4 linked regions of the Homo sapiens genome follow. The protein of the gene in region 4 purifies or fractionates together with the protein of the main gene of each other region. This does not show direct contact. Each region holds a gene or a part of one and is shown on either strand. Other genes may lie near its edges.

Region 1 (7,313 bases), on a different chromosome or scaffold from region 4:
CCTACCTTTTACTAGCTAGGTAACCTTGAGAAAACTACTTAAATGAGGCTGAGAAATCTTATCTAGAAAATGGGGGGGAAAGTGTACTTACCTTATAGGATGGTTTTATGATGAAATAATATATAAAAAACACTTTGCAAAATGCTTGGCACATAATAAGCACTCATTTTAGTGGCTGCTATTACCATTATTACAACTACCACTACTGTTTTTATTATTATTTCTATTTTTATTATTTATTATTACTATTTCAAAGTAATAATAAATTACTGTTTTTATTATTACTATTTCAAAGAAGGGCAAATCTTTTTTTTTTTTTTTTTTTTTTGAGACGGAGTCTCGCTCTGTCGCCCAGGCCGGACTGCGGACTGCAGTGGCGCAATCTCGGCTCACTGCAAGCTCCGCTTCCCGGGTTCACGCCACTCTCCTGCCTCAGCCTCCCGAGTAGCTGGGACTACAGGCACCCGCCACCGCGCCCGGCTAATTTTTTGTATTTCTAGTAGAGACGGGGTTTCACCTTGTTAGCCGGGATGGTCTCGATCTCCTGACCTCATGATCCACCCGCCTCGGCCTCCCAAAGTGCGGGGATTACAGGCGTGAGCCACCGCGCCCGGCCGGGCAAATCTTAATGTAGCAAAAGCATCTGTTATGGGCTGAACTGCATCCCTCCAAATTCCTTTATTTAAGTCCTAACCCCCAGACCTCAGAATGTGACTGTTTTTGGAGATAGGATCTCTAAAAGGATAATTAAAATGAGTCGTCAGGGTGGCCCCTAATCAAATATAATTGGCATGTCCTTCTAAGAGGAGGAAATTTCAACACAAACAGGCATACAGAAAGGACAGAGGGAGAAGGCAGACATCTGCAAGCAAAAGAAGTACGCCTCAGAAGAAACCAACTCTGCCAATACCTTGATCTTGGACTTCAAGTCTTCAGAACTGAGAGAAAATAAATTTCTGTTGGCCCAGCCAATCAATCTGTGGTACTTTGCTACAGCAGCAAATTAAAACAACATCCAAACAGCAAATAACCAATATGGCAAAACTCCAGTACAACCAAATAAAAATAAAATTCACTGAAGTTTGTTTTAAAGTGCTAAAACTTGAAAAAACGTTTCCGTTAAATACAAAAGCTATCTTAATGTTAAACTGCAGCACTATTACATATAATTTAGGTGTGCACATAATTTATCTAAAGTACATGTTCAATAATTCACATACTCAATACCTACCATGTGCACATTAAGCTAAGTCCAGAATAAAAACCAAAATTGCATAACCACTCATTCCATACATATATTTGAGTACTTATTGTGTGCCACAATACATCAAAGTAATGATGAAGATATAGATACAGAAGGGCTCTATAATAAAGTCCACAACCATTTCTAGAATGTGCACGTTGTTCCTTTTGCCAAGAACTCTTTCATGGTTAACTTTCTTGTTCTTGGTCTTCACTCAAATGTCATTTGCTTCAGAGTTCTCCTTTCCAGCTAAGTTAGGTCAATCATTATCTGTACATACCCTATTCTTTTGCTTCACAGTCCTTCATGTTTTATAATTACGTATTTTTTTAACATGCTTCTTGTTCTTGGGGAAAGTGGGGCAGTGGCTGGATAAAGATTATGTCTGTTTTGCTCACCAATGAATTCCCAGAGTCTAGCACACAGTAGGCACTCACAAATACTGCTGAGTGGAATTTTTATATGACTGATGCTGTACACAGGTACACATGTATCTTTTATCACATGTAATTTTCACAGCCACGTTATGTGGTAAACAGCAATATCCTTTTTTTAAAGCAAATGTGGAAAGGGTTTAGAAAGATCCCAGAGTTTAGACAGCAGCTCAGATACTCAAGTCTAAGTTACCCTAGTGCCAAACCTACTTTTAACCCTTGCCTCCCTATACCATACAGCTCAAAATCTAAAAAACCTCAAGAAGAAACTCATCCTTTAAATCTGTTCTTTACACATGTGACTATTAAATGCCTATGTATTTCGGAGTTTATAAAAAATCAAATGAAAATGGAGATGAAATGCTCTGTAACATACAGAACACCATACAGGCCAGGCACTGTGGCTCACGCCTGTAATCCCAACACACTGGGAGGCCGAGCGGGGAGGACCACTTGAGGCCAGGAGTTTGAGACCAGCCTGGGCAACATGGCAAGACCCTGTCTCTACAAAAAAAGTAATAAAAAATCAAAACACGCTCATTAATTCTTTATATCTTGCCTCCCATTTCAAAATTAATTGGGCTTTAAAACATACCATGCAACTGCTACTAATGTTGCAATTAATGTCGATTACCTAATTAAATACTTAGATGGGCCCTGGGCAAACATCTCAAAGACACGAAGGACTTCAGAGGCACCCGTCAATTCCCCAGACACTGCCCAGGGGCAGAGAGTGCGTGGGATGGGGATGGGTCTGCAAAGGGCTGCGGCAGGGCCTGCTTCGAAGGCCAGGCGTCAGCACAGAGGGAGGGAGGCTGGAGGTCAGTCGGTCAGGCCCAGTCCGTAGAGCCCTGGGGTCTGTCAGTTTGGGGAATCTCAGGTAAGCGAGCAGAGACCCCCACTCTGCTCCCCACCCATCTCGTTCCGTGCGGGAAGAACGGCCAGGCCAGGCAGGGGTCAGGAGAAAGGAAGACAGAGGAGGGCAGTAAACGACGTCGGCTGAAGCCCAAGGAGTCTCTCCAGTTACCCTCCTCAGCCCCTAACAGGGCGAAGATGAGCGCGACCCGAAAGAAAACGGAGAGACCAGGGTCTCCACTGAAGGGACTGCGCCCCCGCTCCTAGGACCGTTAACACCCCCGTCTCGTCCAGTGGGCCCTCGCCTCCGCCTCACCTGAGGACTCCGGAGAGGCTGCACTACGGCCTAGCCGCCGTCCTGGGCCGCGCCCCCTCGGCGGCTGGCCCGGAGGGGGCCCAAGCTGAGTAAACCTCCTCCCCGACCCGCCGGGGCCCTGCTACCGCTTCCGGGAGACGTGGAAGGGAAGCGAGGACCCCACAACAGAGTGGCTTTCGAGCTGCCTGCACGGCAGGGAGACGCGAACAGCCACCTGCAGGCGACTCAGGCGGTGGCGCTGGCGGCTACGGGGTCCTCGCGCATGGCCACGCCCCTTTTCCGCCCGCGGCGAGAACAGGCGCGGCGCATGGCCTGCGTGCGTGTGACGTGGCTCGCCGCCGGTGGACGGCCCGCACGCCGTGAAAGGCCACACCCACAAAGGGCGGGGCCTTACTGCGGGCCACGTGGGTGACCAAAGGCGGTGCCCAGCCTGGAAGGAACGCGAGGCCTGAGTTGGGCGGGGCTTGAGACCCGGGTGGACCGGCTAGACCTCGTGTTTCTCCCTTTCCTCACCATCTCCCCTAAGTTTTACAGACGAGAATGCCAGAGGTCCACGGCAGAAGGTGGAAATAAGAAAACATGATCCGGATTGCATGGCGCTTACTTTCTAGTGGCAGAGACAGATATTACGTAACAGTGAATGGACAAGACAATTTCAGGGCGTTACCAGAGTTGTAACGACAAGAAAACGGGGAAAAGTGACTGGAGGCACGGGAGGTACTTTAAATCAGGTGGTCAGGGAAGGTCTCTCTGAGAAGATGATATTTGAGCTGAGACCCAAAGGATGGAAAAGGCAGTATTGTGGTTATGTTATGCATACAGTTCATTGACTATCTGAAATAAGTCTAAAATCCACATTCACTAATTCAAATACTCAGCACCCACTATGTGTACAGGATTGGGCTAACTTGGCCCTAATGACAAGCCTACAACACAGTTCCAAGTCTCAAATCTTTGAATTGAGGAAAGTAAGGTTCAAACAGTTTAAATAACTTGTCTAAGATCATCTGTCCTAATAAGGAGTCCACATTACTCCAAAGCCTATTCCTCGTAGACTCAAAGCTTTATTGTCTCCAAATTAAATATTGGAAGTAATTACAGCTCCTGCTTTTATTGCTCTCAGGTGAGGTTTAGCCCAGTACGGTGAAGAGAAAAATTTTCAGCAGCACCAGGAGGTGGTAATCATAATAATGGCATCTAACATTTATCAAACCTTTTATTAAGTGTAGAATACTGTGTTAAGCATTGCATGTGCCTCACTTCATTTTAATCTCACATGCATAAGGAAGGTACTATTATTCTCTGGTAGGTGGTATTGTTGTTCCTAACTATTAAGTTGCTTTTCCAGTTAAGGATTACACATCATCGCCCGTTGCCATGCGACTGCAGTGCATCCTGTAGGAGGAGCATTCTTTCCAGCCTCACTGATGTCAGGCTTGATTGTATGATCTTCTTTTGGCAGGGGGTCTTTCTGAGCAGTAGTATTAACAGTTATTACGTATTTCAACCAGAGAAATTTTTCCTTTCATGAGAATAGTCTGTGTCAGATGGGGCTGCTCTTTCAGCCTTGGTCCTGGAAGAAAAAGGGGATGTGAAGCAGCTCACATTTGAGATGTCACATGAGTGACATATAAACTTTTGCTGTTATAAGTCACTGAGATTTAGGATTGTTTTTTACACAGCCCTACCTAATAAAATCATACTACTATTAATATATTAAACCATTTTACAGATGAAGACACTGAGATTCAGTGAGGTTTAGTTACTTGCCCATGGCCACATAGAAGCAAAAGTAGAACAACTGGGATTCAAACTTGGGACAGTGTGACTCTAGAAACAGTGTTTTAATTGTCGAAGGGATGAGAATGAAATAAGTTGAGGAGGAACCAGTCTTCCACTGTATTGGACGAAACCTGACCTGAGAGGAAGAAAAGCAGGAGCTGTAATTACTCCCAATATTTAATCTGGAGACAAAACTTTGAGTCTAAGGGCACAGGCTTCGGAGTAATGTGGACTCCTTGTTAGGACTGATGATCTTAGACAAATTACTTAACCTATTTTTTTGGGTTTTTTTTGTTTGTTTGTTTGGTTGGTTTTTTGAAATGGAGTCTTGCTCTGTCGCCCATCCTAGAGTGCAGTGGCGCGATCTCGGCTCACTGCAACCTCTGCCTTCCAGGTTCAAGTGTTTCTCCTGCCTCATCCCCCTGAGTAGCTGGGACTAGAGGCGTGTGCCATGATGCCTGGCTAATTTTTTGTATTTTTACTAGAGACGGGGTTTCACCATGTTGGCCAGGCTAGTCTCAAACTCCTGACCTCAAGTAATCTGCCTGATCAGCCACCCAAAGTGCTGAGGTTACAGGCATGAGCCACTGTGCCCAGCCCTTAACCTGTTTGAGTCTTACTTTCCTCAACTTGAAGATGAAGACTAGGGGCCATGTTGTAGGCTTGTCATTAGGGCCAAATTGGCCTGATCCTGTGCACATAGTGGGTCCTGAGTATTTGAATTATTGAATGTGGATTTTAGACTTAATTCAGATATTCCAAAAAATGGCAATGGGCAGGCCCCAAAAAAGAGTATTTCAAGAATTCCCACATATACCCCCTAAGAGGTCAGCATATAGATGCCTGCCATGCATACATTATTGGGGCCAGGGTGGATTAGCCAGAGAAACAGCACAACAGAGAGAGGCTACAACCTTGCCCAATGGGTCAGAAAATTTGCTCTTTTCTTCCCACCTCCTCCCTGCCCTAATGCCACCAGTGGAGCTAAAGCCTAGAAAAGAAAGGGGAAGAAGGAAGTCTCTAGAGCTGTAGGGCAACCAAGCTAGTCTGCTCCAGAGATCAGGGGAAAGAACTTTGAATAGAGCTTAAGGATGAAGTTTTAAACAAATGGGGCTATATTGTGACTTCTGGAATGGCAGAGTAAGGAATTCAGCAAATTCTCTTCCCCAAAAAACAATGATGAAATTGGACACAATTGTAAAAAACAACCATTTCAAATTCCTGGAAATCCACCACAGGTATAACATAAATTAAAATGCATTTATTCAAGAAAAACTATTAAACCTTGGGTAACAACAGTGAGAGTCTGTGACACGTTACCATGGGGAAATTCCCAATCCCTCTCCTCCAGTTCCATGGGAATAGTTCTGTCAGGGCTGCGTAAATGTGAAAACCAGCAGCTTTGCTGCCAGAGGGGGCTGACTTGGTAAGGAGTGGTGCCAGCAAAACCCCATGGCCAAGGAGAAAGGTTGATTGGGAATGCCAACATCACAATTACCTGGGCTGCAAGACTGGTTGAGCAAACAGCTGATTAGAAAGCCTGCTGGAAGTTTAGCAGTGAGATCCAGGGAATCAGATAGCCATAGTGGGCTTTGGCGATGCGCTTATGGTCTGGAAGGCTGTGTCAGTTCAGGAGAGTCTGGCAAAAGCCCCAGTCATCTACTCAACCCTGGCGGAACATGAAGCCTTGCACAGAGGCAGAGGAGACACAGGAAAACAAAAGCCAGAGAAGCCTTGCAGAGATGCAGAGGAGACACAAGAAAACCCAGCAAAACAAAAGTCAGAGCAGTCTTGTAAATTGCCTGAATTTTGAATGTTCTTCAACCCATTTAGATGACACAGGTCCATCAAGAAAGGGTAGAAGTCTTACTGGCTTGAGGTGTCTAATTACCACATCTGATCAATCATTGACTAAATTCTAAGCTATATTGACCTTGGTGAAAACCTTAGAAAACCAACCTTAGAAATAAACGTAAAAGAGAAAAAAATAAAACTGAGCAGAAACATCAATGTCAACACACTATGGAAGAGAAACTCTGCAGAATTAGTCCAGGCAAGTCACACAACAAATGTATAAACTAAGAAAAACAACAAAAAACACCCTCTGAGGGGCACACCAAAACACAGGAGTTGCTACACTATATTATCTAAATTGTCCAGTTTTCAATTAAAAAAAAGCAGACATGCAAATGAACAGAAAAATTGACCATACACAGAGGTGAAAATCAGTATAAATGTTGTGAGATGTTGGACTTAGCATATAAGGACTTCAAGGAAGTTACTCAACCATGAGATCAAGTCTCACACAGCACATCTACTCTATTTAAAAAAAAAAAGAAAAAAAATATGTCCAAAGAACTAAGTGAAAATATGGCAGCCAGCTGTGGCAGCTCACACCTGTAATCCCAGCACTTTGGGAGGCCAAGGCAGAAGGATTGCTTGAGCTCAGGAGTTTGAGACCAGCTTAGGGAACATAGTGAGACCCAGGCTCAAACAAACCAAAAACAAAAACAAAAAAATTACAACAATGCTTCATAAAATAGGGAATATCAGTAAAGAGATAGGGATTATTTTAAAAAGCAATGGAATTCTAGAATAAAAGTACAATAAGTAAAAAATAAAAAATTTCACTAGAGGAGTTCAATGCAAATTTGAGTGGGCTGAAGAGACAATTAGAAAACTT
Region 2 (7,452 bases), on a different chromosome or scaffold from region 4:
CAGTTGATAAAATAATCTCTGTGCATTTAAAACAGCAGGAAGTTTGCTATAAGTAACAAGGGTTCATCAGCTTTCTACTCCCTCCCTTCTATTATTATAATACATCTATGTCTTAAGCAAACAGCTTTCCAACTTGGGTGAGGACCAAACCCCAAACTTACAACTAATATGAAGTTACAACTCTAATTCTTTAGAAATGAGAGAAGTCCAAACCTCAATAGAAGCCTGCCATGCTTATTTTGAAATGTTAAAAAAAAAAAAAGATCCAGGTGTCTTCAAAATTCAAGCAGAATAGCTTGAAACACTGAAAGTTTAACATGATGACATGTGTGGCTGTTTCCCTCTCAAAATGGCAGCCTGCAAGCACCTGTGCCTTCATCACTCTAGTTTAAAACCCCACATTCGTGACTGTGCGGTTCAAATGGCCACTGCATAAGCACAGCCCAAACTCTGCCCATCTGAGTTAAAAAACATTTTATTCTTTTGAGACAGGGTCTCACTCCGTCACCCAGGTTAGAGTGCAGTGGTGTGGTCATAGCTCACTGCAGCCTCAACCTCCCAGGCTCAGGTGATTCTCCCACCTCAGCCTCCTAAGCAGCTGGGACTACTGCATGCCCCACCATCCCTGGCTAATCTTTTGTAATTTTTTTGTAGAGATGGGGTTTTGCCATGTTGCCCAGGCATGGTCTCTTCCATTTTCAGTTCCATTTTCATGCACAGTAGGGTGAATTTTCAACTTAAAAAGACAAGTAACAAAAACCTGGCCCGGGCACCACCACTGGGTGCCCTTGTGCCCATCCACTGACCCCAACAAGCTCAAAAACCTTTCTTGTCACAGTGTAGCCACCATCAAATATTAGAAGTTGACCCACAAGATGAAACTTGTTTATCCTCCCTTTAAAAGGGTGGTCCCAACCTTAGTAATATTAGGGTCAAAGCCATGTCAATTACAAACCACCTTCATAGTATCAGGAGAGACACCACAAAATATGAAGCGCAGGACGTCGTATGTAACTCATGAGGCACAAGAAAATCAGAATAGAGGCCAGAAGCTCACACATTTCCAGGGACAAGTCCCAGAAGCAAAACATAAAAGAGCTGGCTTAGGCTGAAAACCAATGGCTCTCCTCTCTCCAAGGTCAAAGCTATCCCACTCCCCAAATCACTCACAGAGTCTTTCTATGTGCTCTCCCCAACTTGCCCCGAGATTCAGGCCAAACAACTGCCCGTTTGTTCATGACCCAGGCTGAGATGGGGAGAACAGCCCACGTACACCCTACCCTGCCTTCTGAGGGGTCTACAAGCAATAAAACCTTTCCCGAATAGGAAGGGGGTAAGCTATCCCAAAGTTGGCAGAAGTTCTGCAAAACATGTTTTGTGGGGGTCTGGGACTAGGTATGAGACAAACGACTTTTAGGCTCAAAGAAGTTTGGAAATGCTGGGTTGAGACTTCTCGGAACCTTTCATACACCGGAATGCTGCAGAGCTCCAAGCAGAGTTTCCAGCCTTTTGGTCTGTTTGTTTGTATGCCTCGCAGAACCTCTCAACAGTTTGTAAGCCTCCAGGGACTTCACATGCAAATAACTAGCTAGCTGAACATGCAGACTGCCCTCCTCACTAACCACAGAGGGCAGTAAGTTGGCTATTGAAGCTTTCAGTCCCCAAAATGCTCTCATCTCTTCTGGATGGCTACATAAACAGACCAGTGAGAACCACAGTAAACCCTGAAGGGAAGGGAAAGGAGGGGCAGCAAAGAAGCAGAAGAAATGGAAATTAAAGTTAACTAAGATTTTTTTCCTAGTCTAATATCAATCTTAACACATTGATCCTCATCCACTCGAGCAGCTGAGAGCCCTCTTAAAGGGCAAGTGACATCGAGACCTGCTCTCGGAACTGTCTGCAGGAAGACTGGTGTTAGACTAGGATTGAAGATGAAGCACATCTTGAAGTTTACTGATCTCTGCCATCGGATGCTGGGTGAGGTACAGCTCATTCATGCCTTCCTTGGCTCATGCTTAAAACCCATCACACTCCTATCCTCCCATAGTTCTGCACGTTTCTCATCCACTCGGGCAGCTAAGAGCCCTCTTAAAGGGCAAGCGACCCTGACACCTGCTTTAGGAACTGTTTGCAGGAGTCAGTGCAGGCCAGCTCCACATCCTGAAGGGGATGCCATCCGGGTACGAACAGCTCAGAGGCTGAATGGCCCTATCACCCGGGAGGAGCCTGGAGGGTATTCCATCTAATCCTGTGGCTAAGCGGGGTGGATGAGGGAACACACGGACTTGTTCGAGAATTTGCCCAGCAGCACGAAACTACTTAGAAGCAGAAAACTGGGGCAGGACCTGGCGTGGGAGTTAGGGAGCCCTCCACTGCCTTCTCAGGGATCCACATGTGCTCCTCTGTGCAGGAACTTTCAACAGCGCCTCAAGATAGAGTCACAGAGAACGATGGCAAATTCCATAGCACTCACTTTTTCTTTCCTGAGAAATAAACAGATTTGGGAGCTCAGTACATCAGTAATATAAAAGACAGTGGGTTCAGAAAAAAAAAAAAGGAAAAAAATGCACAAATTACAAAAAAATATGTATAAAGAGCTTCATACCTTTTTTCGTTTTTGGTTACCTGTAACGTTTTAGAATTCAAGAAGGTTTCCAATGAGGAAAGACGGAATTATTCAGAAACAGCGTTCACCTGATACGGAGAACAGCTCCCCAGCGGGAAGTCATCATGTCTCATCTGACAGTCTAGCGAGCTGCGTGGCCCCTGGTCACTCACTCACTCACCCTCATGGGTGGTCTCTGTGCACTCATTTATAAAACAAACACACTGGACCTTGCCAGTGATTCCCAGATGTGACTAATACCCAGAATTCCAAGAACTAGTTAAAATACAGCTTCTGGGCACCACCTCCTCCCCGTTCCTGGTGGTTTTGGATTCCATAATTCTGAGCGGGGCTCACGCATCTGTATTCTTAAAAGTTCAGCCAGGTTTGGGGAGGCTTGGACTAGGTGGCCTAAGAGAACCCTTTGAGGCCCAAGCTTCACTACAGAAATTTCTGTGTTACCCACGTGCCAGCTACTCTCAGGGGGACAGTCAGCAAGGACCCATGAGGAATCATAACACGGGGCAAAGACCTGTGAAGATACAAGGGGTTGCTCACTGCCTGGGCCCAGGGTTAGTTATTCAAGCAAGATATGTAAAGTTACAGATAGTATTTAATTGGTTACTGTGATATCATAGAAATACCAAGAATCATAAAAGTAAAAAAAGCTGCTAAGTTGTACATAATGTTTCCGGAATACTAAGAAGTTGCTGCTGGTCTACAGAGCCCTGGGAGGTGACGGTGAGGATGGTCCCAAGAGGCGCAGCTAGGGTCACTGGCCCCGGTCCTGGTGCCTCTTGCCTTTGCCTTTCTTCTTCTTGTCCTCTGGCCGTGGCTCCAGGGCGCAGACACAGGCGGACCCGCCAGCGATGGCCTTGGGCAGGTCGACGCCCCTGCTCCACTTGTCGGCCTCGCGGTCGTACACCTGCACGGTCTTGGAGAAGGCAGTGTTCTCCCAGCTGTAGCCGCCCAGGATGTAGATGCGGCCCTCCCACACTGCCACGCCCGACTCGCTGTTGGCGTGCAGCAGCGGCGCCACGCGGGTCCACTGGTTGCACTGCGGGCTGTAGGCCTCCACGCCCAGCACGTCGAAGCGCTCCATGGACTCGATGTTGTCATCGCTGCCCCCGATGGAGTAGATGCTGTCACCCAGGCTGCACATGCTGTGCCAGCCGCGCGCCGTGGTCATGGGCCGCCGCTCCTCCCACACGTCTGTCCGGTGGTCGTAGCATAGCAGGTTCTTGCGGTAGGGGCCAATTTGGTAGTCGTGGCCCCCCGAGATGTACACGAAGTCTTTGTAGATGGTGCCCGCGTGGCCGTACGTGAACCTGCAGGGTCGACGGGCAGAGACAGAGGGAGAGCTCAGGGCTGTGCCAGGCTTACCCCCTCCGAGCCGGGGAACAGCCTGCCGTCTTAGAGGGCCATGAGGATTTAAGAATATAGGGAGTGGGCACCCCATGAACACTCTATAGACAGTAGCCGTCATTAGCAAAGAAATGGCAGGGCAGGGCGGGGAAGTGGACAGCTTTGCAGTCAGGCCGCCTGGGCCAGAACCCAGCTTCACTCTCTCTGAGTCTCCCTTGCCCCATCTGGGAAATGGGAATAATCACAGGACCATCACCCTTTTCACAATGGCTGGAAACGACTAGAACAATGAGCTAGCAGGCACACATGCACCCGATGAATCACACATCAAAGAGGAAATACGACATACAGTCCAATTCTAACTGTGCTGGCACTCGGGAAAAGTTTTGCCTAAAACCATAGAGACAGCAAAATCAGTGGCTGCCAGGACTGTGGGGAGAGGGGAGGGAGGGATGGACAGCACGCACACAGTGGGCTTTAGGGCAGTGAAATGATTCTGCGTGATGCTGTAATGGTGGATTCATGTTGCTTTGTGTTCCTCAAAACCCACACAACTGTGCCAGGAAGTGGGAACCCTGATGTAAACCAGGGCCTTTAGTGAATAAGAAAGGATCAATATGGCCAGGTGCAGTGGCTCATGCCTGTAATCCCAGCACTTTGTGAGGGTGAGGTGGGTGGATCTCTTGAGGCTAGGAGTTCAAGACCAGCCTGGCTAACATGATGAAATCCTGTCTCTACCAAAAATACAAAACTTAGCTGGGTGTGGTGGCAGGCGCCTGCAGTCCCAGCTACTCAGAAGGCTGAGGCAGGAGAACTGCTTGAGTTCAGGAGGCAGAGATTGCAGTGAGCCGAGATCGCGCCACTGCACTCCAGCCTGGGTGACAGAGAGAGACTCTCTCTCAGAAAAACAAAAATACGAGCGCTTACCCCACACACTTCTAACTCTTACGGACACCTGGATGTATTCCACAGCAAAGACTGGTTCAGAAAGTGCACTGCTGGGTGCGGCAACAGGGAACTGGTGGAAAAAATGGTGTGCACCTTCTGCTAATCCCATGGAGATAATAAATGCTCGATACATGCACATCGGAACGCAGGGGAGACTGAGGAGGGTGAGGCGGCCACCCTGGGGCACTCCCTGCATGTGGATGCAGGTTTCACAAGCAGCACTGCATCTGCTCTGCACAACAGTGCTGTGGGGTGGGTATCATTATCGTCTACCTCTACAGATGAGGAACTAAAGGCCGAGCGGGGTGAAGACCCATGCCTGAGGCTTAGATCTAGCACATATACCCCCATCTCTTTGAACTCCTCCTGCCCAAGCTCAGGGAGATCCTCAGGTCAGGCCTCACCCTCTGAAGCTCAGCAACTGCACACACTCAGCCATGGAGGGATGTCCGTCATGGCGGCAGAGCTGACCCTTGCCCTAAGTCTGAAACCGGAGCCCGGACTGTGCACCGTCACGCCCTCCGCCCCTCATGGTGTACCCACTCTTCCTGACAAGCCGGAAGATTTCATTCCTGGAATTGGAGGCCAACATGCCCAGAAAGTGAGGCACGTGGACTGAACTATGTCCCTTAAAAACATCCCATTTGGAGAACCTTCCACCAAGCCCCAGATCACCTTGGCAAGCCGGCCACATAGGACCAGGAGTCAGTCTTGGGACTGTACGTCTCTACTGAAGAGAGCGCTCCGTTCTCATTCCGGCCGCCGATGGCCACCAGCATGTCTTCGATGGAGGCAAGGTAGAAATCCACACGGCGCTGGTTCATGGAGGCCACCTGTGGAGTTGAGATACCTGTACCTTCCCTTCCCCGAACCCGGGACAGCATCAACATCTGGCGCTGCGGTTCCCAAATGTGTCTGCGGAATGCACAACCCCGGAGAATGTTTGGGAAAGGGAACTGCACCTGAATAAAGAGGGCTTCTTCAGGTGGGAGCTCTGAGCCCCCGAGGTTTCACCAAGATGCTCTGAATCCCCAAAAGTGGGATGGAGACGCTCTGAGTCCCCAAAAGGGGGATGGAGATGCTCTGAACCCCCGAACTTCTCTGGTCATGTCGTTAGCCGCGTGGATGGGAACTCTGTGGTCACAGGGGTCAGAATTGCTGATCTAGTGGCTTTATGAAATAAAAATTCATCTTTCCTCTCCCCACATCAGATTTGTAAAGTTAGTGCTGCTCTGCCACTCCGTGTTAACAGAGCAGGACGTGGCATTCGACAGGAAATTAAACAGAAGAGGCTGGGCGCGGTGGCTCACGCCTGTAATCCTGGCACTTTGGGAAGCCAAGGTGGGTGGATTACCTGAGGTCACGGAGTTCGAGACCAGCCTGGCCAACATGGTGAAACCCCGTCTCTACTGAAAATACAAAAATTAGCCGGGCGTGGTGGCAGGCGCCTGTAATTCCAGCTACTCAGTAGGTTGAGGCGCCAGAATTGTTTGAACCTGGGAGGCAGAGGTTGCAATTAGCCGAGATCGTGCCACTGCACTCCAGCTTGGGTGACAGAACAACTCTGTCTCACACACACACACACAAAAAGTAGAAGAGCCAACTTTTTTTTTTCTTTTTTTAAACGAATCCAAGGCAAACACACTGCTGCCACTGCTGCCAGGCTTCGGGAGGAGGCTCCAAAGCCAGGGACCCTTTCCAGTGGTGACACTTCGACCTTGGAGGGCAGTCTCAGATTTCTGAGAGTAAAATCAAAAGGTCAGCTGGAGTCCATTCTGACTGGGTTTTGAGCTGAGAACAGCACTGAGCTGGGCGCGACGCTGAGGTGTGAGTATAGAGGCTGAGATGGACTGTCCCGGGGACCGAGTGGCTGGAGAGCGCTCCCAGCAGAAAGGAGACACCTTCCCTACGCCAGGGGCTTGCCAGTCAACATGAGCTACTGCACTCCCTGTCCCCCACGTATTCCCAGAAGGGGAATCCAAAATGTGGAGAGGACAAGAATCTGAAATTTCCTAGCTATGACTTAGCCAGGCTGGGATGAGACCTCAGGTCTGACATCAAGGCCCACGCTCTTCCCAGAATCAGGACACAATACATGCCCAAGGGCCAGGCGTGAGCACTAGTGGTCTCCTTAAACTATCTCCCAAAATGCTTCCAGAGGAGCCCCACAGAGACTCCAGGACCTGGGGATGTTGAACCATGGATCAAACATCTAGACCCATGCTACTGTCCAATAGGGTAGCCACGCCTCGTGCGGCCACATACACTTACACGTCAATCGGTTAAAGTGAAATAAAATTGAAAATTGACTTCTTCAGTCGCACTGGCCACATTTCAAGTGCTCAGTCGCCACATGCGGCTGTGGCTACCGTATCGGGAAGTACAGACAGACCCTTCCATCTGCACAGAAAGCCCCGCCAGGCAGTGCTGCTCTGAACGATGACGGACCCCTCGAAGGGGTGGGTCGGCTCTCCCTCTCCCTGTCCAGGATGTAGGCCCCGGGGTATTCTGCTCGTCACTTTATCATCACACCT
Region 3 (7,926 bases), on a different chromosome or scaffold from region 4:
ATGAAATGTAAAGAAAAATACAACTAAATCAATTAAGAATTTACCAAGGAGTGATACAAGGGCTAGGCCTTGAATGCAATCTACAGAAAGGCAGGGTATTTGGCCAGCACTGAAGATGTTCTAATGCTAAACATCAGCATAATCCCTTAAGGAATTATTCCTATAGTTGAGAAAAGCAATCCACCGTATTAACCCCAGTCTAACAGAAATGTCTTTGAAACATCTAACACTGTTCTAGTTGAAGGATAGAGGATCCTGGGTTACTGTTCTCCTGCACCTAAAGCAGAAATCACTATGGGATCACAGCTCTCTTTCCTGATGAGCTCAGATGCTCCCAAACATAGGAGTTCCAGGCAGCCGCAACCAACAAATCAGAGCTGGCTCACACAATGAATCTGTATTCAAATTCCACATATATCAAGCATCTCTTTGACCTAATAACTTAGTCTCAGCAGACAGGGTGGGTTCCTGATGTGTCACCTACCTGGTTTCCAAGTTATCTGGTTTCTCCCACCAGAATTAGAAAACTGGCATTCTTGTCAGTTTGATTGACAAGGAGTTCAGCTCTGGAGTTATCCAGAAGGACAAAAATTAAAATCTCTGGCCTGTCAAACTGAAAGTCAGATCCTGGACTGGAGATCATCCTATCAGGTATAATAATTTGCCAGGCTGACAGCAACTAGCTGGCCTCCGTCCTTAGCTGACCTTGAGTTACTAAAGAAAAACAGACAGAAGTGAGCCCCTGGAAGCCAGTGGGTGTGATTTACCTTTACACCATTCTTACACAGGGTATAAATTCCAAAAGACATTGCTGTATGAGAGAGCAGTTCAATCATTTCAGAGTTCAGAGAAAGAGGGAACACCAGCTGAAGAGGATCATCTGCTATGGGAGAGGATTCTGAAGATCTCACATTAGGAAGCAGTCAAGAAATTCACAGCATAATGTGACCAAGCTCAGAATGTAAAGTCAATAAGAAGAGTTCAAAACTGAGAAATAGCTCCCAAGTAGAAACAGTAGAACTTTAAAAACATGAGCACTGAGGATGAAGAATCACATACAACTTCAAAGTCTAGGCAAAGAAATAGCCACAAACAAGAGTCTAGGGCAATACAGGAGGCTAGCAAGTACAAGACAATGTCCAGTGGGTTAGAGATGTATACCTGGGAGCCACCCAATTAGCTGAGAAAGAAGAGCAGATAAAGCCACGTCCTAAGGGCAGAGAGAAAACAGGTCACAAAAATGGGAACCAAACTTATTAGAAGGCACTGTGGAATGCCAGAATCTCAGTAATCATATTATTCTTTTAATAGCAACAAGCATTCATACAGTAGGTGCAGGCAGCCTTCTAAGGTGCTTGATACCTTTTAACTCATTTGAACAACCCTATGGAAATAGGAGTTATTGTTACTCCTATTTTATAGATACAGAAAATGAGGCACAAGAGTAGATGACCTCCCTAAGGTCACATTTTGAGAAACAGAGCTACAATTTTGGTACCAAATCTAAGCAAACCTGTATCCAGGGTCCCTAATCCTAACCACTAGGCTGCAGGGCCTCTTCTCAGTTGAGATGCCTGTTTCTGGCCAGGCGTGGGGCTCACACCTTTAATCCCAGCACTTTGGGAGGTGACGGCAGGAAGATTGCTTGAGGCCAGGAGTTCAAGACCAGCCTAGCCAAGATAGCAAGACCCTGTCTCTTATGTTAAATATACACACACACACACACACACACACACACACACACATATTATACATATAATTAAATTTTTTTTTAAAAAAAGACTCCTGCTTCTAACACTTAATTCAAAGAAACCACTGATCTCTGACTCTCAGTTTCCCTCTCTGTAAAAGGGGGTTGGCACTTGCCCTCCCTACCCTACCCAGCCTTTTGACACTTAATAAAACCCTAAGAGTAAGCTGCAGTTGTTCTCTACCAGGCCTACTTCCATCTAACATTTTTCTTTGCAGGATTTGGAAACAGGAGGGTAGGGAGACCTGAGGTCAAAGAATATATACCTTTTCAATGGCATTTCAAGTGCTGTTGGTTAGATAAAATTTCCATGACTCCACTAAAATAAAATAAGATTTCTTTCTGCCATCCAGCAATTGGTCTCTTATCTTGGGCATAAAGAAGAACATGATGCCTTTCTGAACTGGATGCCTTAGTACACAAAAGGACCTCTGAAACCTGGGGCTGTAAAAACAAGCGGGTGAAGCGGAAACTGCACTGCATAATGGATATAAGCAAATCCTCTGATACAAAAAGTTGGTCGCATTGTTGTTATTCTAATCAGTAAAATAATAACGATGCTCAGGGAGTGGAATGATTTTTTCGCCTTCGACCAGAGAAACAACAGAGTGGTCCAGTGGTTCCAGCCTAGATCCCTCCAGCTCCGCGAAAGAAGCCGAGATGCTGACTTTCGCACTGCTGCGGGCAAGGAACAGAAATGCACGCACGCATGCACACGCGCGCACACACACCCCTGACTCGCGACCACTGACCTTGAGAACTGGACCCCCGGGTTCTCAGCCCGCAGCGGTGTGGGGCTGGCTGCATCCCTCCCGGCACTCACCTCTAAAGTTTTCACTAGGATCTTCATGTAGATCTCGGAGATGCCCAGAGACACTCCGAAGACCGAAGGTAAAAGGATGAAGCCGAGAACCAGCGTCAGCCAGGTGGAAAGGATCTTCCCGGCCAGCTCTGCGCCCTCCATGACTCGGCGCACCCACTCAGGAGAGGTCCGCAGTGGAGGGCCGAGCGCCACAGCAGTCCCTGTCCCCAGGCAGTCCCGCGGGAGCTCCAGGAGCAGAGCGCCGAGCCCGGCACTCACCTCTGCGAAGGGAAGAGAGGAAGGAAAAAAACTTTCAGAATTACGGCAATATCCTTCCTTCCTCCCTGGGCTCCTCCTCGCCCCTGCCAGTTAACTCTTTCTCCGCTGGCTGCCCAGGTCTGGGCTGAAGCCACCGCGGCGTGCGGAGACCTGGGTAGCGCGAGCCAGTGGTCGGAGCTGCGGGTAAGCGGAGGCACACCGCGGCGCGGGCAGAGCGCGCGAGCGCAGCCAGGAACCCGCCCCGCCCGGTGCCTGATTTCCTCTGGGTGGCGATTGCGACAACTCAGCAGATGACTCACGGAGGCCCTCCCCGAGCCAGGTTCCCTGCGGGAGCACCGCACTTTGGCACACCGGTCGCCGGCGGAGCTGGCACCGGGCCGCGGGCTGTGCTGGAAGCTGGCTGCGCTCGGGCGCCCAGCGCCCTATTTCTGCGCGCTGCCCTCGCCCCACCTCCTCCGTCACCCAACGGGGGAGCTCCCTGGCAGTACTTAGCCCAGGAGTGCCGCAGCCTCCTGGGCGGTCTCCGTTCTTCCCCGCGCCCCGCCTCCCCCAGCACTCAGCAAAGGTCCTTTCAGGAGGAGAGTTTTCATCTGAAAAATGTCAATATTTTCTTCACCCGCAGAATGAACTGCTGACGTATCTGGGACGCTTGAGGTCTTGTTTGTGTGGGTGTAAAACGAACTCTTGGAAAGGGCTTCCAAGGACAGGAAAACGCAGAGCGCACCACGCAGCCGTGTACGCCGCTTCTGGCTTCCACACCTCCTTCCCCACATGGCCTACAGCTGTGGGGCTCAATCTTGCTTATCCCGAGAGTAGGAAGCTCTCTCCACGCGTTGCCTAGCCCACTGAGCCGCCATCTCCCTGGCACAGAAACCCTGCGGCTAAGTATCTGTCACTCCCTTTCTGGGGGAAGATTCCAACCACACCTTCCCCTACCATTCAGCCAATACTATCCGCGCTTAGGCGTAGCAGAAATGCCAGGCCGGCGCAAGCCTTCATTCACCAAGCTGACAGGTGTCTCCTGGGTGTTCAGGCTCCGCGCTTCTACCGCGCCAGCCCTTATCAGAGCAACGAAGGGCAAAACCCTGTATGTTATTTACTACATTGCTGTTCTCTTAGAGACCAGAACTATTTTTAAGAATGAGCAGAAGGGATTTTGAGAAGGGATTTTCCAGATTGCCGCTGAATTCGACCAAAATCTCTTACAGGTACTTTTCAGGTGTTGTTTCAAGCTGGAAAAAAACTGAGAGGGCCAGCAAACTGAATTGAAACAGCGCTGATAGCAAATATTGCAGAGAAAATGGTCCCTGCCCAGGGTGTGGAGGAAGTGGGGAGCCAACGAAGTGACAAGCCCCTCTGTAAAGAATGTAGATGTCTGCCTTAAGTACTTACTGCCAGGTAGCTGTCACAAGCCCCCTCCCACACTAAGAACGGAAAAAATTATAACTTGATGATTAAAACCAGGTTATGGACCGGGCGCGGTGGCTCACGCCTGTAATCCCAGCACTCTGGGAGGCGAGGCGGGCAGATCATCTGAGGTTAGGAGTTCAACACCAGCCTGGCCAACATGGCGAAACCCCCGTCTCTACTAAAAATACAAAAAAATTAGCCCCGCGTGGTGTCGCACGCCTGTAGTCCCAGCTACTCAGGAGGCTGAGGCAGGAGAATCACTTGAACCCGGGAGGAGGAGGTTGCAGTGAGCCGAGATCGTGCCACTGCACTGCAGCCTGGGAGACAGAGTGAGACTCAGTCTAAAAAAAAAAAAAAAGGGTTATGAATGAAGAAGTGTTAGGAGCTTGGTTTCTCAAAATTAAACCTCTGTAAGGTTGGCTAGTTTAGAAAAACACGGAAAACGCAACTACCGAAAGCTGCCCAAAGTCCTTGCTTTCAAACACTATATATATTGAGTGCAAAACTTCAAATATTATATTGGCATATTTAACACCATATGTTCAGGCAAAACTCTTATTTTCCTTTTATTTCCTCAAACCAAGATAACTAAGGAAGGCTAAATCCTTGTACCAAAGTTTACCCCACAAGGGAGATAATACACACAACTTTGCGTGTGCTGAGTGCACACACTCTCCAGTGATTTTTGGTGCTCATGAACAAACTCCACAAAATGGTTTTGGTTTGGTTTTGTTTTAACTGTTACGGAAGAATTATTCGTCCACAGCTGTATGGTGCAATGGTAATAAAATGGAATTTGGAGTCTTCGATTGAGAGCAGCACGAACACATATAAGTTTGAGCAAGTGCTTCTGTGCTTCACCTTTCTCATCAGGAAGATGGGTTCTTCTCAGGGTTGAAAGTGATTGTGAGCATGAAACTGCATGGTAAATGACAAAGCTCTATGCAGAGATCAGCAGGCAGCCTGGTGCAAGGGCAAAAACTCTTCATCTTTTTCTTGCCTAAAAGGCAGGAGAGCCAACACAGGCTCCCCAGGGTAACAAAGGCTCATCTTTGCAGTGATGGAGGAGGGTGAGGGAAGAGAAGAAATGTAGGGTGATCCTGACCCTGTCTCAAGTCGGGGAAAGTTGGTCCCGACTTGCCGCTCTCCTTGTCTCTCTTTCACTCTCCTCACCTCTCCTCCCTCCTCCATTCCTTGAGACTTAAACCTAGGTAGGAACCTACTTTCTCCGTCCCTGAAGTCAAGACCCCCTTTACTTACTGTATTTGTTTCCTAGGGATGCCTTCACAAATCACCACAAATTTAAGGACTTAACACAACAGAAATTGATTCTCTCAGTTCTGGAGACCAGAAGTGTGAAATCAAGGTGTCTGTCTGTAAGGTCACACTCCCTCCAAAAACTGTAGAGGAGAATCTTCCAGCTTCTGGTGGATCCCAGCATTCTTTGGTTTGTGGCAGCACACACATCTCTGCCTCAGTCTTCACATGACCTTCCTGTCTCTTCTTCCCATCTTTTCTTTTACAAAGACACATTATTCTGGATTTAGGGCCCACCCTCATCCAGGATGATCTAATCTTGAGATTCTTCCCTGAATTAAACTTAATCTGCAAAGACCCTTTTTCCAAATAAGGTCATATCCATAGTTAGGGGTGTTAGGACTTGGACATACCTTTTGGGGAAGGTGCAATTCAACCCGTTATAATTACCATCTCTGTAAAATGAGGATAATAACACCTACCTGCAGAGGTTGTTATTGGGATTGGAGAGTATGTATTAAATGGTAGTTGATAGTCAATGCTTAGTAATGAATTTATCCATAATCCTGTTTTTTTACCTATTAATCCAGGCATGTATATATATACATGCCTCCCCAAAAGATATGTCCAAGTCCTAACACCCGTAACTATGAATATATATACACACCTGTATATATATACACTTACACACCTGTGTGTATATGTACACATATATATACATACATATGTGTATATATGTGTATATATATGCATATATATACACATATGTATATATATGTGTGTATATATATATACACACAAACAGCTGATCTCTACATATATATGTATGTACAGGTGTGTATGTATATATATATACAGGAGTGTGTGTATATATACACATATACATATATACATATATAATACACACATATTATATATATTATATGTACACACGTATACTATATATACAGTATATACATACAGTATATATACATACATTGTATATATACTGTATGTATAGTATGTATGTATATATACACATATATAGTGTATATATAAGTGTGTATATACATATAGTATACTGTATATATATACATACTGTATATATGCAAAGCTCTATGCAGAGATCAGCAGGCAGCCTGGTGCAAGGGCAAAAACTCTCCATCTTTTTCTTGCCTTAATCTGCAAAGACCCTTTTTCCAAATAAGGTCATATCCATAGCGGGGAGATCACCTGCCTCGGCCTCCCAAAGTGCTAGGATTATAGGCTACGTGTATGTGTGTGTGTGTATACATATATATATATATATATATTTTTTTTTTTTTTCATGACAGCCTCAGGAGGTCCTGACGACATGTACCCTACTGCACTCCAGCCTGGGCAACAGAAGAAGACCCTGTATAAAAAGCAAAAAAAAAACCCATTGAGGTCCAGCTAAGTGTATGGATATCAAAGCAAAAATAATTGATTCCAAACAGCTGCCCTTACCTGTTAACTCATTGTGTTATTCAAGTCTTCTTCAAGCCTCTGCTTTTACAGCAATTGTGGCCAATGTGAACAGAATTTAGGCTAAAAAACTTTGAGCAGTTGTCAATATTGTCATGAATAGAAGCCTATGGCAAATAATACGTCATAGCTGAAGCCAAACAAAGACTATTCGTTCAATTTAAAAGGTATGGTAGAACTCAGAAGTCTGGGGGTGAAGCAGACTTTTGAAGTACTTTATTCAACAGACAAGTTGCATTGCTTATCTCCAGTATCTTTATAAAATCTTTCTTTTCTCTGGTTTTATTTCACACATTTCTTGAGCTTTCATTATATCCTGCCTTGGTTTGTGTATTAGATGAATTTTCCCACTGTGAACTCATTGCTTGATATCAGAAGCTACAGCATTCATCATACCTTTCTGCCTGTTATTCTACCCCTTTTCCACCTGCACAGAATTTCACTTCTTGACACACCCTTGTTTAAAGCCAGCAGCAACTTCTGTAAAAGAAAAACTTCAGCCAAATTAAATTTAAAGGAGTTTAATTGAGCAATGAACAATTCACGAATCGGGCAGCTCCCAGAATCACAGCAGATTCACAGAGACTCCAGGGGTGCCTCATGGTCAGAAACAATTTATAGACAAAAAAAGTAAAGTGATGTACAGGAACAGAACAGCTAGATTGGTTACAGGTTGGTGTTTGCCTTATTTGAACACAGTTTGAACACTCAGCAGTCTATGAGTGGTTAAAGTATGACTCCTGGGATTGGCCAACACTCAGCTATTGTTACAGGCACATACTCTTTTTTTTTTTTTTTTTTTTTTTTTTTAGAGACGGTGTCTTGCTCTGTTGCCCAGGGTGGAGTGCAGTGGCATGATCTCAGCTCACTGCAACCTCCGCCTCCCAGGTTCCAATGATTCTCCTGCCTCAGCCTCCCAGGTAGCTGGGATTACAGGCAGGCG
Region 4 (7,452 bases):
ATATGCTTCTCTTGTCATAAAATATAATTTGTATATGAATAGGTAAGATATTTGCATTCTTTTTAACTCTGGGATTATATCATCTAGGAAATTGAATCATTGACTTAGAATAGCAGACCCAAAAGAGAGCTTGGTGGCTATCAAAAGCTCCTAAAAACTTTTCTTTCACTTCTCAATGGACCTCTCACCTTGTGGAAGAGTATGTTAATTCTTTATTACTACATACATATGCATGATAGGATATATTAGTATATTCTTATGCAGCTGTGCAGAGTAGATTTTGAAATGGTTTCTCAGCAGATAGTATTAATAAAAATCTACAGGCATAGTTGGATGCATGAACAACATTCAAGGTTACATAGCAGGAATCATTAGATTTATTTCTACTTTGCTTATCATACCACTCTTCTGGCTGTCTTTACTAAACAATTTTTGATGTATTTATCTGCTTAAATATTAACTTTGACCAGTAATGATCATCTCTTTTTCTGTGAACAACAAGCCCTAAAAATAAACTGGGATATAGGGCAATTTCAAATGCAGAGTATCACTTGACACAGGGCAGAGCTGTAAGTTGTGTTCAGCCTTGAAGGTCACTTTATTTCCTTGTGATTAATGTGCTAAGGTATCTTTTCACATAAGATGAATTGACTTTTATTTTTAAATAGAATGCATACTTTGGGAACTTTTTCACCTATCAGATTGGCAAAGATCAAAGAGATTATTTGTTATACAGAAGACAGTAGAAGAAAGCGGGCACTCTCATGCATTGCTGGTGGTAGTGCAAATGGACACAATTTTTATCAAGGGCTATTTGGTAATATTTATCAAAATTATAAAAGCTCATACCTTTTGATCAAGCTGTTCCAGTTCTAGGAATTTATTCTACAGATATGGAGATGCAAGATATACAAAATAATTTGTTGGAACATTGTAGTAGCAAATTATCAGTGATGATCTAAATATATGGTATACCATACCAAGGAATATCATACAGTAGTTTTTTAAATGAAGCTATTACATTGAGATCAAGAGTTTTGAAGAATTTATTAGAGTGAAAAACTAAGAGGTAGAATTATGCACATAGTAATAGTTGTGTAAAAAGAAGCAGATTGGGGGCTGGTGGGGAGAAAACACATATTAGCTTGAATATATATAGAGTGTTTAAGTGTGTATACACACATATATATATGCTTGAATATACAGAAAATATTTATTGAAGATTTTGGTTACTTATTGGGAGGTACAGATGGTACAGTATATTCTAGGGAGAAAGGGTAGGAAGATATATATATATATATATATATATATGTTTCTTTACTCTTTGCCCTTTAATATCTTATTACAGTATTTTGTATTCAAAATATAAATATATAAAATATTTTAAAGTAAAGACAGAGGCAAATAAACACCTTTGGTAGAGTTTTATTCATTCATCACATGCCATGGAATTAGTAAGGTACAAAAGTCAATGAGTATTTTGACGACCCCCTGATTTTTGTTGTTGTTTCTGAATTTACAAGAAAGCTTCCTCTTTCAAGAGTTTTAGAAATAAAATTATATTGGAGAAGCATATTTAGTACTTGATTCAATAAAGTTATTTAATTATACTAGCAAAAAAGGCATAATTTTAGGGTATTAAAAAAAGTCTTAATTTTGAGATGGGTGTTGAGTCCCATGTAGTTGGTAAGAAATAACACAGAGAGTTCTTGTGAGCTCTTGACAAATTTCCTGCAAATATAACATTTTGTAATAACTATATTAAACCTTCCTAATCAGAATATTGACATTGATACAGTTAAGTTACAAAAGAGTTCCATTACATAAGGATTAACTGTGTTGGCCTTTTATAACCACAACCACTTCACTCCAGTCCCCAGGCTCTCCTTAACTCCTGGCAATCTCTACTCTGTTCTCCATATTTATTTTTTGGTCATTGCAAGAATATTATATAAATGTAATCATACAGTATTCAATGTATTTGAATTGATGTTTTTTCACTCAGCATAATTTTCTGTAGATTCATCTAAGTCATGTATATTGGTAGTTTTTGCTAAATAGTAGTTAATGGTATGGATGTGCCAGAATTTATAACTATTTACCCATTGAATGACATCTGGATTATTTCTAGTTTAGGGTTAATGTAAATAAAACTGCTATGGACATTCCTGCATAGGCTTTTCTGGAACATAAATTTTCATTTATCTGGGATAAATGAGAACACTTGCTCGGTTATGTGGTAGCAGTGTGTTTAGTTTTTAAATGAACAGTCGAACTTTTCCAGAGTGTTTGTACAATTTTACATTCTCACCAGTAATGAATAAATGATCCATTTTCTCTGCATCCTTGCCAGAATTTGGTTGTCACTATATTTTGGCCATTCTGATAGGAATATAGCAACATCTCATAGTATTTTATATTTGCATTTACCTAATGGCTAATAATATCGAGCCTCAGTTCTTGTGCTTCTTTGTCATTCATATATAATATTCATTGAAATATCTCTACCTGTTTTCTTATTTTATTTATAATGGTCGAGTTTTTTTTTGTTTTTTGTTTTTTTTCGAGACGGAGTCTCCCTCTGTGGCCCAGGCTGGAGTTCAGTGGCGCGATCTCAGCTCACTGCAAGCTCTGCCTCCCTGGTTCACACCATTCTCCTGCCTCAGCCTCCCAAGTAGCTTGGACTACAGGTACCCGCCACCACGCCCGGCTAATTTTTGTATTTTTAGTATAGACAGGGTTTCACCGTGTTAGCCAGGATGGTCTCAATCTCCTGACCTCATGATCCACCCGTCTGGGCCTCCCAAAGTGCTGGGATTACAGGCGTGAGCCACCGCGCCTGGCAACGGTCGAGTTTTAAGAGTTCTTTATATATCCTAAACACCAGTCATTTGTGACCTTCAAATATATTCTCCCATTTTTAAGCTTTTTTTTTTCCATCCTCTTAATAGATTCTTTCTCATAGCAAAAGTTTCAAATTTTGGGGCCTAGTTTATCAATTTTTGTGTTTCTGAATCCTGCTTTTGTCATGTCTAAGAGCTCTTTGGTTAACCCTAGATCTCAAAGATTTAATCTGATGACTTGTTTCTTAAAGTTTTATATTTTCCACTTAAGTTTGTAATTCATTTTGAATTAATTTTTGTATAAGATATGAGATTTAGGTTCAGGGTTATACTTTTGCCTAGGGATGTCCAATTATTTCCCGAACAATTTGTTGAAAGAGCTATTTTTTTCTCCATTGAAATTGCTTTGGTACTTTTATCAAAAATTAGTTAGGCATATTGTGTGCACTTCTTTCTGGGTAGCCTCTTCTGTTACATTCATTTTTGTCTATCCTTTCACCAACCTCACATAGACTTCATTACTGTAGCTATATAATAAGTCACAAAATTCGATAGAATCATTCCTCCCACTTCATTCTTCTGTTTAAAATTGTTGTAGCTCCTCTAATTTTTTGCCTGTTCATATAAATTTTGAAATAATCTTCTTTGTAGAAAAATGTCACTGATATTTTGATAGGAATTCATTTAACCATATATCAATTTAGGGAAATTTGACATCTTTCTTATGTTGAGTTTTCTAATCCATGAACATGGCATGTCTTCCCATACATTTAGATCTTCTTTCATTTACTTTATCAGCACTTTGTAGTTTTCAGCAAAAATGTACCATCCAGGTTTTGTTACATTTTCGTGTAATTATGTCAGTTTAATGATTGTAAATGCTATTGCATTTTTAATTTCTGTGTTCACTTGTTTATTGGTAACATATGGAACTGTAAATGATTTGTGTATGTTTACCGTGTATTCTGTGACTTTTTTGGACTATTACTCTAGAAGGTATTTTTGTAGATTCATTAGAATTTATAATATAGACAATCAAAATATCTGCAAAAAAATTGAATACTGTATTATTACATTCATATAACATTCTTGAAATGACCAAAAAATAAGTATGGAGAACAGATTAGAGGTTGCCAGGAGTTAAGGAGAGCCTGGGGACTGGAGCACAGTGGTTGTAGTTAAAAAAGGCCAACACAGGGAATCCTTATGTGATGGAAATCTTTTGTAACTTGGCTGTTCTTCTTTCTTGATTTATGTGACTTATACATAAATTTGTAACTTGACTTTTCTTGTTTCTTGATTTATGTGACTTATACAGTTAGGCTTCTGTGTCCTTAGGTTGTGCATCCACAGATTCAACCAAATGCAGATGTGAATATAGTACTTGTGGGATGCAGGACCCACAGATGAATGTGGGACTTGAGCATCTGAGAATTTTGGTATTTGTGGGAGGTCCTTCAACAATGTCCCTTGGACACTAAGGGCTGACTGTATTTTCTTTTTCTTGCCTTATGCCACTACTTAGAACTTCCAATACTATGTTGAATAAGAGTGTGAGAGTGGACGTTTTTATCTTGCTTCTTATCCTGAAGGAAAAGCATTTAGTCTTTCACCAGTAAATATAATATCAACTGTAAATTTTTTGTAGATGCTGTTGATCAAGTTGAGAAAGTTTCCTTCTGTTCCTAATTTTTGACATTTTTGATCATAAATGGACATTGAATTTTGTCTTTCCTGCATCAGTAGATATAGTCATGTGATTTTTCCTTTAGCCTGTCATTATTGTATATCACATATTGATTTTTGAATATTGAACCAACCTTGAATACTTAGAATAAACCCTACTTGATCATGGAATATAATTCTTTTTATACATCACTGAATTCTGTTTTCTAACACTGTGTAAAGGAATTTTGTGTCTATATTCATTAGGAATATTGATCTGTAGTTTTTTATTTTTTACTATGATCTTTGCCTGGTTTTGGTACCTGAGTAATACTGCTTTCATAAAATGAAATACAAATTATTCTATCATCTTCTATTGCCTGAAGAGATTGTGTAGAATTGATGTTAATTCTTCTTTAAATGTTTGGTGGAATTTTCCAGTGAGATTTCTTTTGTGACAGTTTTAAAATTATGCATTCAACTTATTTATTAGTTATATAGCTATTAAATGTTCTATTTCTTATTGGCTAAGTTGTGGTAGTTTGTGTTTTTTAAGGAACTGATTGGTTACACCTCAGTTACTAAATTTATGTGTGTAGAGTTTTTGTTAGTATTCTCTCATGGTCATTTTGATGTCTGCAGATTTTGCAATGATAATTCCTGTTTCACTTACGATATCCAAGATGCCTTAAGCATGAAATTGACTTTATGCAGCTTTACATATGATTGACTAAATGTGGCTTTGAAAGTTAATACCTATTTCTATTCTAATACCTATGAAATCACTGTGTGTATTTAAAAACCTAAACCACATATCCTCTACATAGATCTAGCCACATTGTGAACAGGTTATTGGACAATATTTTAAATTTCAGTACAGTTTGTATAATTTTAGTTAAATCCAATACATAAGTAATCTTATCCATAGACAAATGTTTCAGATATCTATTGCTACACAACAAACCATTCTACAACATAGTGTCTTAAAATAATGACTTTTTAAAATCATTCTTCTGTGGGGTGGTTGGGCTCATTTGGGTGGTTCATTTGCTCTAATTGGTGTGTTACCTGGCTGTTCAGCTAGGGCTGGAATATCAATACCTTTGTTCTTATGCCTGGAGCTTCACTTCAGATGATGGTTGCTTGAGACTATTTCTCTCTCTCTCTCTCTCTCTCTCTCCCCCTCCGCCCCTCCCCCCTTTCTCTCCCTTTCTCTCCCTCTTTCCATGTGGGGTTTCTAGCAGGAGAAGCAGACGTTTTACATGGTGCCTAGCTTCCAAAAGAGGGAAAGCAGAAACTGCCAAGCTTCTATAGCCTTGGAACTTGCATAGTTTCACTGCTGCTACCTTCTGGTCAAAGCAAACCAAAGTTAACCCAGATTTAAAAGAAGGGAAAACAGCCTACTACAACAAATAACTATAAAAGATCAAACAACATTGTATAAGGATGTATGAACAAATAAAACATATTCAGTGCCTTTAAATTAATATTTTTAGAAAACATAGTATAAATTAGTTTAAATAATAGTATATGCCTCCTAAAGATGTGTCCAGTTCCTACTTCCTGACATCTATAAATGTTACCTAATTTGGAAGAAAAGTCTTTGCAGATATAGTATTGAGATGAAGATATGATTTCGGAAGATCCAGATGGGCCCTACATGCCATGACAAGCATCCTTATAGGAAAGATGGAGAGGGATGTTAGACTGAAGTAGAAGGAAGTAGGCAATCTGACTACAGAAACAGAGAATGGAGTAATGAGGCCACAAATTGAGGAATGCCAGCAGCCACCAGAAACTGGAGAAGGCAAGGTTCATGTTCTCCCCTAGAGCCTCCCGAGAAAATACCACCCTGGTAACGCCTTGATTTTGGTTGACTGTAACTTAATTTGGATTCTTTGGTCTCCGGAAGTATGAAAGAATACATTTCTGTTGTTTTAAGACATTAAATTTGAAGTAATTTTTTTTATTCTCAATGTTTTTTAGGGCATATTAGTATATTTTATTTTATTTTTTGTTATACTTTAAGTTTTAGGGTACATGTGCACAATGTGCAGGTTTGTTACATATGTATACATGTGCCATGTTGGTGTGCTGCACCCATTAACTCGTCACTTACATGAGGTATACCTTACGTTAATAAAACTTTGTCTTAAAAACTTTTTGTCTACTTCAGAAATCTCTAAAAGAATTTTGAAAGATTGTCTATCTTTGATTCACAGAAGTCAACAAAAATATACTCCAATTTATGGAAATTGCTTTATGATTATAATTAATTTTGAAATAATTACGATTTCACAGAAGGGTGCACATGGAGGTGTATGCACCATTTACTCGACTTCCCCACCACTAACATCTTATGTCAGATACGGTACTATATAAAAACCAGCATATTGATGCTGGTATAATCCATAGTATGTCCACGTTTATAGCTCTGTGAAATTTTATAAAATGTATACCTTCTTCTATCCCTTACCACAATGAAGATAGTAACCTGTGTGCCTTACCATATGATTCTCTCCTGCTACTCTTTTATAAGCACACCCATTTACCCTCTCCATCCCTAACTCTTCAAACCATGAATATGTTGTTTATTTCTATAATTATGTTATTTCACAAATGTTATATAAAAATTGTTATATATGTATTTCTTTGAAATTGGCATTTTTATATTGTTTTCACTGAGTATCATTTCCTTTAGGTACATGCAAGTTGTTGCATGTATCAATAGTTCTTTTTTACTGCTGAGTAGTGGTTCATGGTGCGAATGTAGCACAGTTTAACCATTCACCCATTGAAACGCATACTGGATAGTTTCCATTTTTTTTCTATTATAAGTAAAGCTGCTATGGACATTTGTGTACAAGTTTTGTAAGTTTTTTTTTATTTTTCTGTGATATATCTCTGAAATATAGTTGCTGGTTACTATGAGAAGTCTTTATTA

What was found.
Region 1: the proteins of SLC6A15 (region 4) and GOLGA5 purify together in Homo sapiens (co-immunoprecipitation; 4 studies listed by BioGRID and IntAct, with this or other methods). This does not show direct contact.
Region 2: the proteins of SLC6A15 (region 4) and KLHL36 purify together in Homo sapiens (co-immunoprecipitation; 4 studies listed by BioGRID and IntAct, with this or other methods). This does not show direct contact.
Region 3: the proteins of SLC6A15 (region 4) and GPAT3 purify together in Homo sapiens (co-immunoprecipitation; 4 studies listed by BioGRID and IntAct, with this or other methods). This does not show direct contact.

What each region holds. Positions count from the first base shown.
Region 1 is NC_000014.9:92,789,992-92,797,304, reverse strand, and holds the start of GOLGA5 (golgin subfamily A member 5), read right to left. Parts: upstream 3,001-7,313; 5' UTR 2,849-3,000; exon of another isoform or gene 2,312-2,848; intron 1-2,311. UniProt on the Homo sapiens protein: Involved in maintaining Golgi structure. Stimulates the formation of Golgi stacks and ribbons. Involved in intra-Golgi retrograde transport.
Region 2 is NC_000016.10:84,658,059-84,665,510, reverse strand, and holds part of KLHL36 (kelch-like protein 36), read right to left. Parts: intron 5,752-7,452; coding exon 5,594-5,751; intron 3,934-5,593; coding exon 3,378-3,933; 3' UTR 1-3,377.
Region 3 is NC_000004.12:83,531,411-83,539,336, reverse strand, and holds the start of GPAT3 (glycerol-3-phosphate acyltransferase 3), read right to left. Parts: upstream 3,230-7,926; 5' UTR 2,834-3,229; coding exon of another isoform or gene 2,715-2,833; coding exon 2,574-2,714; intron 1,639-2,573; exon of another isoform or gene 485-1,638; intron 1-484. UniProt on the Homo sapiens protein: Converts glycerol-3-phosphate to 1-acyl-sn-glycerol-3-phosphate (lysophosphatidic acid or LPA) by incorporating an acyl moiety at the sn-1 position of the glycerol backbone.
Region 4 is NC_000012.12:84,902,461-84,909,912, reverse strand, and holds part of SLC6A15 (sodium-dependent neutral amino acid transporter B(0)AT2), read left to right. Parts: intron 1-7,452.